Regions from separate parts of the Homo sapiens genome. Here region 1 is linked to region 2. Evidence: fine-mapped expression QTL. A gene starts in region 2. The other region holds a variant in brackets. All regions are shown on one strand. Distances are from middle to middle.

Region 1 (5,373 bases), 44 kb before region 2:
GTGAGTCTTATGGCGGCTCCAGAGTTGTTTGTTTCTCATGGTGGGTTCCTGGTCTGGCTGGCTTCAGGAGTGAAGCTGCAAACCTTCACCATGAGTGTTACAGCTCATAAAGGTAGTGTGGACCTAAAAAGTGAGCAGCAGCAAGATTTATTGCAAAAGGGGAAAGAACAAATCTCCCACAATGTGGGAGGGGACCCGAACGGGGAAGCTGGCCGCGATGGCCAGCCTTTATTCCCTTATTGGCCCCGCCTGCATCCTGCTGATTGGTCCATTTTACAGAGTGCTGATTGGTCCATTTTACAGAGTGCTGATTGGTCCGTTTTTACAGAGTGCTGATTGGTGTGTTTACAAACCTTTAGCTAGACACAGAGTGCTGATTGGTGCATTTACAGTCCTTTAGCTAGACAGAAAAGTTCTCCAAGTCCCCACCAATTAGCTGGACACAGAGCACTGATTGGTGCATTTTTACAGAGTGCTGATTGGTGTGTTTACAAACCTTTAGCTAGACACAGAGCGCTGATTGATGCTTTTACAATCCTTTAGCTAGACAGAAAAGTTCTCCAAGTCCCCACCAATTAGCTGGACACAGAGCACTGATTGGTGTATTTTCACAGAGTGCTGATTGGTGTGTTTACAAACCTTTAGCTAGACACAGAGCGTAGACACAGAGCGCTGATTGATGCTTTTACAATCCTTTAGCTAGACAGAAAAGTTCTCCAAGTCCCCATCAGACCCAGAAGCCCAGCCAGCTTCACCTCTCAGTAGCTTACAGAAGAGGACCCCGCTGCCACAGCACAATACCACAAAGAAAGTCATGCGCTCCTCAGCAGGAAGCCCCCTTCTCCGGGACAGGGACTTTGTTTCCTTCTCAGCTCTATTGCCAGCACCTAGAACTGTGCCCACCTGTCAGATCTGTTATCAGATGGGAACGTGGCAGATTTGTTGAATGAATGAAGGAATGAATGAACTATGTGACACTCAAACTTAGCCACCAAACTTAAACTAGAAAAACTGGGTTGTGGTCCCTGATGGACCGTTGGTGCCTTCTTCCTTTGCTGGACGGTGATCTGTGGCTGTTTCTCCGGTGTGTTCGCAGTGGTTGCCTGGCTTGGTAACAAACACTCTTCAGAGCCACAGCCTGTGCTCGGGCTCCTCGCCGCCTCCCAGGCCCTGCGATCTCTTTGCATCCCAGGAGGTCCCGGTTGGTTGCAGTCCTCCTGGGTGACTCAGGAACCAGCCTCTCCTGAAGCACACAGCCTAGGGAGTTCCTGGGGCCAGAGACATCTCCAAGGGAAGGTCAAGGGCCTGGAGGATGTGCGGACCTGACGACAGATGCCCCGCACGCTGGCCGGGACCGGGAAGGGCGGTCAAGTGTGGAAAGGGTCTGGCGGCTGCCAGGCCTGGCAGAGTGGAGCGGGGCGGGGCGCAGCGGGGCGGGGCGGGCCTGGAGCTGCACCCGCTTCTGGGTGGACGCACTTGGCGAGCGGCGCGGGATGCAGACGGCTGCGAGGCGCTGGGCACAGGTCAGACGTCAGTACCCGCAGGGGGCTTGAAACTGGAGGAGGGCTCGAAGGGAGAGGGAGCCCCGCCAAGGAGCGGGGCTGTGATGGAGAGGGGGTTCCGACTCGCATGGGACCTGCGGGGGAGGGTACGCGGACAGGGAGGGGATACCGACTGGGAGGGGCTCAGGGACAGGGATGGAGGCTCCTCTAGGGGAGGACGGGAGGGGATGGAGGGCCCTGGTGTCGCAGAAGCCCACCTGGGGCCCCCTCCGGGCTGCGGCACCGATGCGCACACTACTCCCACCGCCCCCGAGTGCCTATGTCCGGCTGGCCGCGGCCCTGGAATGAATATTGCTCAGTCCCCCGCGAGTCAGGTCTGCCGCGTTGCAGGGTGAGGGGAAGGTGTGAAGCCCCGGGCCTCCGTCTGCCCCGTGAGTCCGGGAACGCGCGCCCCCGTGGATGCCACCTGGCCCCTGAGCTGTGTCCAGTCACAGCTCACATAGCTCTGGGCACTGGTACCCCGACTGCCTTTCCTTGTTAGCTGCGATACACAAATACATGAGCCAGATCCTTTCCTGAGGCCAGGAAGCCTGGAATCTAATAACATTGGGCGGTGGATAAAGTCCCCCGATCCAGTGCTTAGCTTCCGTTAATGGAGCCATGGATGGAAGCGGATGTCAGGCGCAGTGGGGGAGAAATTTGCGGGGGTGGCCCTGTCTAGGGCCAGAGAAACAACCTCTGAAGCTTAGATCCAGCCCTAGAGGGAAGAAAGATGTGAGTTTCAGCCAGGGAAACCTAGCACTTTAAGAAATAGAAACCCTTTCAAAATTTGAGGGCAGGTAGCTCTCCTAAAAGTTGCAGAAATGGCCACTTCTTTCACGTTCTCTTCGACTGCTTTCTGCCGTGTCTGCCGTTTTCCTCCTCCCGCACCTTTTTGTCTCCTAGGGTGGCATAGCCTTCCAAACAGATCTGCCTACAGCATTTTACCTGCAATTTTACACTGATTTTATAGAAA[G/C]GATGGCTTATTGTTCATGAGAAACGTGTACTGTTTTTAACCAGATGTGTTATATTTTCAGTATAACCTGGGTGTTGTGCAGTGGGAAATTACGGAAAGAATCAGGACACGTGGTTAGGTAGGGGCCCAGTGGCGTCAGACTTAGCTCTTCGTGACTGCGAGCTTCTTGGTTTAATAAGGATATTGGCTCGCTCTGTTCCTGGGGTTTCTGGGAAAAGATATGGAACTGAAATGAAGGTTTCATTGAATATGGCCCACTGATTTTACAAGCAGAGGTGCCTGAGATAAGCAAAAGGTGAGGCATGACCTCTGGCTGTGCATTATTTGTTCTGATATTACAGGAGCCAAGCATTCCACTTCCTTCTTTTTAAAGAGCTTTGATTTCCTCTCACATCTTCATGAAGAAGGAAACAGTGCCCCCACTTACTTATCCTCAGGCCACACCTGTTCCCATTTATTCCGTGAGTTCCTCCCGCACCCTTCTGGTTGATGTTGGTTGTGATGGCCGAGGCGAAGTTATTGAATCTCACATTTGGCACCAGTTGTTTCTGTTTCTCATCTCCCCCCTACCTTCAGTTAAACATCAGCTGCTATACTTAGCTGTTCAAAGTACAGATGTTAACTGTGTTGGGTGTGATCAAAAGATTATCTCTTTTCCTCAAATGTAAAATGGGTGAGGACAGTTTCACCACACAGAGTCACTCCCCTAGCCAAAGTCCTTGCTATTGCAAAACATTTTATTGTAAGAGAATTAAAGTCACTAGTGTGTCAACTAGTGGTACTTATAGACACATTCCATATTTGTTTGTGTAGACAGATCATAAGACAAACACTAGATTATTCCCAGTATGAGACCATACTGAATATGAACAATTAGAGGCCACAGGTGAGTGCTGTCCTCCTCACACTTTCTTTGAACTCTTAAGCTTCTACCCTTTTAACCAGCCAGCCCTCTCCCCGAAACCTTCACTGAGGCTAGAAACAAACACAAAGAGACTATCTGAATTTTAGCGAATTTTATCTCTCTTTTCTGTTCTCTTGTGTAAAAACTAAATGACCACAAACTACACCGCTGGAGGAAAAAGGAAAGCTAAAAGGTCTATCAGCCTTCTGTATGTGATGCAGAGTTCAACTGAATATAGCAAGGTACACACCTGCATTCTCCTTGCCAGGACTTAGATATCATAAGCCATTATCTTGCTGGTTGTTGAAATCGTAATGGGGCTTTATAGAGCACAAGGCGATGTTTGTAAACAGCACTGTTCAGGCAAGATTAGAATCCGTATTTCAAAAATGAGGAGATGGAAACAGAGATATTGTGTATGTGGTCCAGGGTTAGCCAGGAATTAAATGGCAGAGCCGGAGCTCAAACCAGCATTCCTTCCAGAATACCACAGCTGCCTCTGGAGTGGTTTTTGTTGTTCTTGTTGAATTTTGTGATGGAAGATTGTGATTTGTTTTTCCTGAACACTTAATATGTTTTCTGACTTGAACTGTCAGAATCTAAATTTAGAAACTCTCATTTGGTATATTTCATGTCCATCTTTGTTCCATATAATTACAAAAATATCTTAGAGCTGGGTATAACCTTAAAGATTGTCAAGTCCAATCTTGTGGTTTTTCAAAGAAAAAAAACGGATTTAAAAAAATAAAGCAAGTACCTCATGTTGCTTCCCCAAATCTACTTCATTGGAGAATTACAGCTAAAAGCAATGTTCAGATTATTGCTCCTTCTGTCATGTGGTCTCTTGAGAATTTGCCAAATGTATAAATCCAGTGACTTATTTTGATGTACTCTTTTGGTTTGAGGTCTGTGACAGCAAACATAACCTCCCTGAATCCCAGCCTGAAATGCCTATGTACCTTCTGTTCTAACTGTAGCCGTTATTATAGTGGCTAAAGTTCTAACTTCTGTTCTAACTGTTCTCCTGGTTCCATGACAAACAGAGCTTTACTTGTCTTATTCCTAGCACAGTGCCCATAGCAGGCATACATAAAATGTGGTCAGTATGTCAGATAAACATCTGAAAAAGTATGACATGTCATTAGAAGTTCATTCAGCTACAAGAACAGAAAACCCTACTACAACGGCTTAAACAAGTAAGGAGTTTGTTTTTCTCAGAGAAGGAGAAGTCTGGAGGTGAGAAGCCTGAGGCTGGGAAAGGGGTTCCGATATGAACTCATCTGAGACAGGTTCCTTGTGTCTTCCCGCACCACCCTCCTTAGCATGGAGCTCTCATCCTCACTTCCCCAAGTTGCAGCAGAAAGACGGGCAGAGGCATGCTCCAGAAGAGTCTTGTCTTGTCTTGTCTTTTTTTTTCTTTTCTTTTCTCTCTTCTTTTCTTTTCTTTTCTCTCTCTGTCTCTCTCTCGTCTCTTTCTTTCTTTTGAGATGGAGTCTCACTCAGTGGCACAATCTCAGCTCACTGCAACCTCCGCTTCCCAGGGTTCAAGTGATTCTCTTGCCTCAGCCTCCAAGTAGCTGGGATTACAGGCGTGCACCACCACGCCCAGCTAATTTTTGTATTTTTAGTAGAGACGGGGTTTCACCATGTTGGTCAGGCTGGTCTTGAACTCCTGACCTTGTGATCTGCCCCCCTCGGCCTCCCAAAGTGCTGAGATTACAGATGTGAGCCGCCGCGCCTGGCTTGTCCTTCTTTATAATAAATAATAATAATAATAGCTTTTCTGGTAGCCCACCCCAAAAGACTTCTTACATGTCATTGGCCAGAACCATATCACATACACACTATTAAAGGTGAGGGAACCTGAGAGAATCTAGTGTTTTAGACGGACACGATGCCAATACATCAAAGTAAGAATTTTGGGCCAGGCACAGTGGCTCACGCCTGTAATT
Region 2 (5,373 bases):
CTGATCCAAAAATCCCGTTCTCCAAAAAAAGTTTCCATCTTCTGCCAAGGTTCACCTCCCTATTTAGTGCACACTGGTGTCTACAGTTGCTACAGCAAGAGCCTTTCCTTATCCTCTAAGGCAGGAGTTGTGTGAAGACCCCATGACAAGGGGACAAAATGAAACAACATGTTTAGGGGCAACACAGGAAAAACCCATATTATCAATGCTCCAAAACCTGGATACCTCAGGCTTGGCCAGTCATTTGTGAGCAGAGAGGTGTGTCATCTACATGGCAGTCATGGCCTGGATGGGTCTGGAACTGTGGCAAGGGAAGTCTCTGAGACAAGGTGCCAGGAGAAAGATGAATTCAATCATCTATTTCTGCCAGGAAGAAAAGCAGGAGGAAGGAATCAGATGCACAGTTTGTCCTCTGGGGACCTCTGCCTTGATCCTCAATAAATCTCCTTTTAGATGTCACCTGCAGCAATTCCCACAGTTCACAATGATCTCCATGGCTTCCGTTGGCCTTATGGTGAGCTCTGCCAAGATCTGTATTCTTGGGCAAGACAGAATCCTTCTGAATCTCAGTCTCTTCCTCTATAAATGGAAATAATTTTGCTCTGCACAAATCACAATTAGCATGTTTGTGGGAAGTCAAACTGTGAAACTCAGCATAACTGAAAAGCAATGTACCACTGTTGCTTATGTGAAAACTCTTGTAAAGCTGTCAGGCACCATGCACCATCTAAGTACAGCAGTGTTAGGTATGAGCCCATCAGTGATTAGAGGGGATGTGGGGTGGAGAGCGGGTCTCTGAGCAGTGGATCTCCTGGCTTTGGGGAAGCTGGCTCGTTGGCCATGCCAGGAGCTGAACCTGAAGGTACTCTGTGTGTCCTCTCAACTCCACGGGCCCCACATTCGCATTTTTTCCAATTCCCTCTGGTTTCCATTTGCTTCCTCCCTCTAGCCCCCTGGCCATGTCCGATCTCAACACGAAGTTTCTGAGCTTTTCTCATTTTGTTCACCATCTCCAGAACATCTCTGCTTCTTTTACTTTTCAAAGAATTTAAACTTGAACTCTGCTCACTCCTGCCCATCACCAACCTGAGCTCAGAGTTGCTGAGAAGGGAAAGCACCCTCATAAGGAAGCTCCTCCTTTCCTTACATCATTAGACTTGATCACAGACAGCATCTCCATCTCCACACTACTCTGGCCAGGTTGTGCCTCAGTCAATTACACAACTGTGTCTTAGTAGCCTTGGTAGGGCCCAAATCAGGATATTCTCTGGGAAGATTCACTTGATACTAAGCCCAGCATAATCTCACTGCATCTAAAATAGAAAATTCTAGACCCACCCCTCCACATCTTCTTATTGATCCCAATATGTGACCCATTTACCATGTGCTAAAATCTCTACCTACTGCTGATTCTCAGATCAGATGGTAACCCAGATTTACCATGGTCCAAACTCTGACATCTGATCAGGGGCATGTCATTCTGGTTCAGGCTGTCAGCCCTGAGCAGGTGAGTCAGTTTGCATCACCCTAAGTGCAGGTTGCCAGGACAACCGTGAGGCTGCATAAAAAGAACCTATGACAGGATGCACATGAGAGAGACAAGTGGCTTCACATTGAAGAAGGGGAGGAGTGCGCCATTGGTTTTCCATCCTCCAGATGCACTGAGTAAGCTCCTACCTAACCTGTGTCCCCTCCTTCTTTGAAACACTTCCCATCCTTTTAAGCCTTGGTAGGAAGGAGAGCCATCTGGAAGCCCAGAATCCTATGGAATGCTAAGTCTCCCTTCTCCTTACCCCTTAGTGTTGGAATTCTGGATACCCAAAGTCTTGGATTTGACCTTTGTGCACAGTGACTGCAAAGAAGCATATTCATATTCACAAAAATGAGCCTTAGATAAGACTTTCCTCCTCTCGTGGGGGCTCCAGGAAACTGAAAAGCCAAGCTTGTTACCAATGCTTGCCCTTCCTTAAGTACATTATTAAATACATCCCCAATAGTTAAAAGGACTCCTAGACACCCAGGCCATTCTCCCTCCTTCTAACCCTCATCTCCTCGGCCTACGAAAGCCCAGCTGTGTGATCCGGGGATTGGTTTCCCCTGTCTTCCCCATCCCAGCATCCTTCCAGGAAATAGCCAGTCTCCCTCTCTGCTCTCAGAAGGCAAGTTTCCTTATCACCTGTGAATCACAAACCCACAGAGTGGCCAAACGTAGCCGAGCTGATGCAAGACCCTGGCAAGGGGAAAGCTGCAGGTGTGTTTGTGCTGGGAAGAACTGTGACCCTCACCTCACAGACACCTCCTCTCCTGATTCTTGGAAGGGTATAAGGACAGGCCTTCCACCACCAGTCAGGCACACTCTACCACCATGAATCCATTCCTGATCCTTGCCTTTGTGGGAGCTGCTGGCGAGTTTCATGACCTGCCTCAGGCCCCACCCACCCCCTTTCCTGGCAGACACATGCCCTGCCATTCTTGCCACCTCTCCTCTTTTGACTGCGCTCTGATATTCTATTTCCTCCATCTGACATATCTCCTTCCCATCCTCCTTGGGCTCTCTTTAAGCCTCACCTGTTTCACCTTTTCCCTCATTTCACTCCCACCACTGTCATTCATCCATATCCGAGCTGTGGTTGGAGAAGCTGGGAAGGGAGACCAGGTGGGGCTGGCCCATGAAATGAAGTGGCAGGCTTCAGGCTTGGCTCCAAGAGCACCAGTATAGCACCACTATAGCTGCTCTTAACCTCGAATGCACCTGGGGAGGTTCAAAAATTACTCATGCCAGAGATTCAACTCTAGAAGTTCTAACTTCATTTGTCTGGGGTGCAGCCTGTGTACTGGGCTTTTAAGCTTCCCAGGTGATTTTTAACGTTTCCAGGCATGCCGCCAAAGTTAAGAATTGCTCTTCTATTGGCCAATAACAAAGTCTACCTTTGTTATGCCAAAGTGAGCCTGGGGCTGCCCTCAACTCTGCCCTCACTGCACAGATCTGAGCTATGGGGGAAGCTAGTCATGGCCAGGTCTACCCAGACAGGGGGTTTTCCTAGCTTAGCCAAAGTATCCTGACAATCCAGGGCTCAAATAGCCAGGGCAAGTACACAGGTGATGAATAAAAGAGAGAAGCACTCAGTGGGTGAGACAACAACATACCAACTGCTACCCCACTGGAAGCATTTTGAGGACATTCCTTGCATCCTCAGCCTGGTGTCCCCAGGAGAGATCTGAGCCCCTGCAGGGTACCTAGCTACGTGCCCTGCAGACACAGAGACTTGGGAGCCACATCCAGTGATGCTCACCAGGGGTGGCAGCGCTCCCTCCCTTGCCTGGCCTCACTGGGCTTGTTAAGGATTTCTAATTGGCAGGAAGCAACCGCAGGCTGGGAGCACCACCCCTAACATGCTACTGACTTGCCTTCTCCCTTCCTATTTCCACTCCAGTTGCTGTCCCCTTTGACGATGATGACAAGATTGTTGGGGGCTACACCTGTGAGGAGAATTCTCTCCCCTACCAGGTGTCCCTGAATTCTGGCTCCCACTTCTGCGGTGGCTCCCTCATCAGCGAACAGTGGGTGGTATCAGCAGCTCACTGCTACAAGACGTAAGTGTGGGGCCCCTGACTGCAAAGCTCCCAGCCAGGCTGCCTGGGAGAGCTTGGCTTCAGCCCAGGGAAGTACTGAGGTTGGGTAAGACGGATGGGAGAGGTGGTGGAAAAGAAAACTTGTTGACAGCAGCTGACTCTCCAGAGCAAGGCCAATCCATGAAACAGCAAGGGTTGTGGTCATAAAAGCAGGCAGGGATAATCTTGGAGTTGTCAGAGCTAGTGACAAAAGCAGGCAAGTACCTTTTGCTGGTTAGCTACACATTAAAGCGACCTAAGACAGAGTTTTTGAAAATACTGATGCCTGTGTCCTACCCCAGGGCAATTAACTCAAACTTCTCAGGAAGACAGTGTGAATACCAGTGAGTATTTAACACTCTACCTCTGGTAACTGTAGAGTGTATAGACAGAGCTGAGAACCGCTGCCTACACGAAGAACTCTCAAACCTGAGTATGCGTCAAAACCACCTGCAGGCTTATTAAAGCACAAATCACTGGGTCCCATCCCCAAGGTTCTGATCAGCGGGTGGGGGTAAGGACCAAGAATTTACATTTCTAACAAGTTCCCAGGAGATGCTAATGCTATGGCTACCCTTGGATTAGATTACACAGAAGGGTGGTGCTCACTAGGCCAAGAAGGGAGGGAGGAACAGGCGCTGTGCGCAGTTAGCAAAGACCTGGGGTGAAGAATGCTGGGAAAACTACGAGGAGCTCTTTGTGCCCACAGTGCTAGTGACTGTGGAGATTTGTGGGAAAGAGGCTGGGAAGGCAGGTTGAGGAGCAGCCTCTGGTGGGATCCCTTTGACTCTTCCCCACCCCACTACCACCAGCCTCTGAAGCAGAAAGGTCCTGGGTCTCACACCTGCACTGACCCACATCCCTCTCCTGCCCATGCAATATGGCCACACACCCCACCCCATGCCTCCAGAGCTATCCATGAGCAGTGAGCTTGAGGACCCTGGGGAAGGTGGGAGGGGTGCCCAGGCTGTGGGAGAAGGTCTTCACCATGCCTGCCCTGCCCATCAGCCGCATCCAGGTGAGACTGGGAGAGCACAACATCAAAGTCCTGGAGGGGAATGAGCAGTTCATCAATGCGGCCAAGATCATCCGCCACCCTAAATACAACAGGGACACTCTGGACAATGACATCATGCTGATCAAACTCTCCTCACCTGCCGTCATCAATGCCCGCGTGTCCACCATCTCTCTGCCCACCACCCCTCCAGCTGCTGGCACTGAGTGCCTCATCTCCGGCTGGGGCAACACTCTGAGCTTTGGTGGTGAGTGGGACCCTTTGTCCTTCTACTTCCCCCCATCCTCACAATTTCCAGAACGAAGCATGCCCCTTTATTTGAATCCTCTTGCCTCCCGGCTTAAGACACATTTCTAGTGCCCATTACACACAGTCTCTGCACTGGGCACCAGAGAGATGCAAAGTCTCAAGGACTTGGCTCCTAAAATCAAGAGATAGGACAAATGGAGAACTTGCTGTGATCACGTCTTGGGAGGGGTTCAACAATGATCATTCTGGAAACTAAAAGCCAGAGTCCCTTGCCAGAACTTACGTTTTGGAGTCCTCTCCAGAGGCAGTGTTCCTCTTCAATGTTCCATCCCAGATTATTGTCTCCTTCTCTGGCCTCACCCACATTTCTACTTTCTTTGATCTCTTCCTGATCCTCACAGCTGACTACCCAGACGAGCTGAAGTGCCTGGATGCTCCGGTGCTGACCCAGGCTGAGTGTAAAGCCTCCTACCCTGGAAAGATTACCAACAGCATGT

Evidence for each region. PIP is the estimated chance that this variant, and not a neighbour inherited with it, causes the effect.
Region 1: its variant is the best candidate, but not a certain one, in a credible set for the expression of PRSS3 in cerebral cortex (GTEx, PIP 0.90).

The regions. Positions count from the first base shown.
Region 1 is chr9:33,749,205-33,754,577 of GRCh38, forward strand. All of the region lies in intron 3 of UBE2R2-AS1 (UBE2R2 antisense RNA 1), which reads right to left. It also overlaps a transcript of PRSS3 not described here. Among named protein-coding and RNA genes, the nearest start is that of PRSS3, 44 kb to the right of the region's middle. The variant G/C (reference allele first, on the strand shown) is at 2,518.
Region 2 is chr9:33,793,209-33,798,581 of GRCh38, forward strand. PRSS3 (serine protease 3) reads left to right here and starts at 2,353. Exons shown (of 5, transcript NM_002771.4): 1 at 2,353-2,405; 2 at 3,435-3,594; 3 at 4,621-4,874; 4 at 5,278-5,373. The coding sequence starts at 2,366. It overlaps UBE2R2-AS1 (UBE2R2 antisense RNA 1), which reads right to left. Exons shown (of 5, transcript NR_170204.1): 3 at 5,160-5,344. RefSeq lists an enhancer at 2,902-3,402.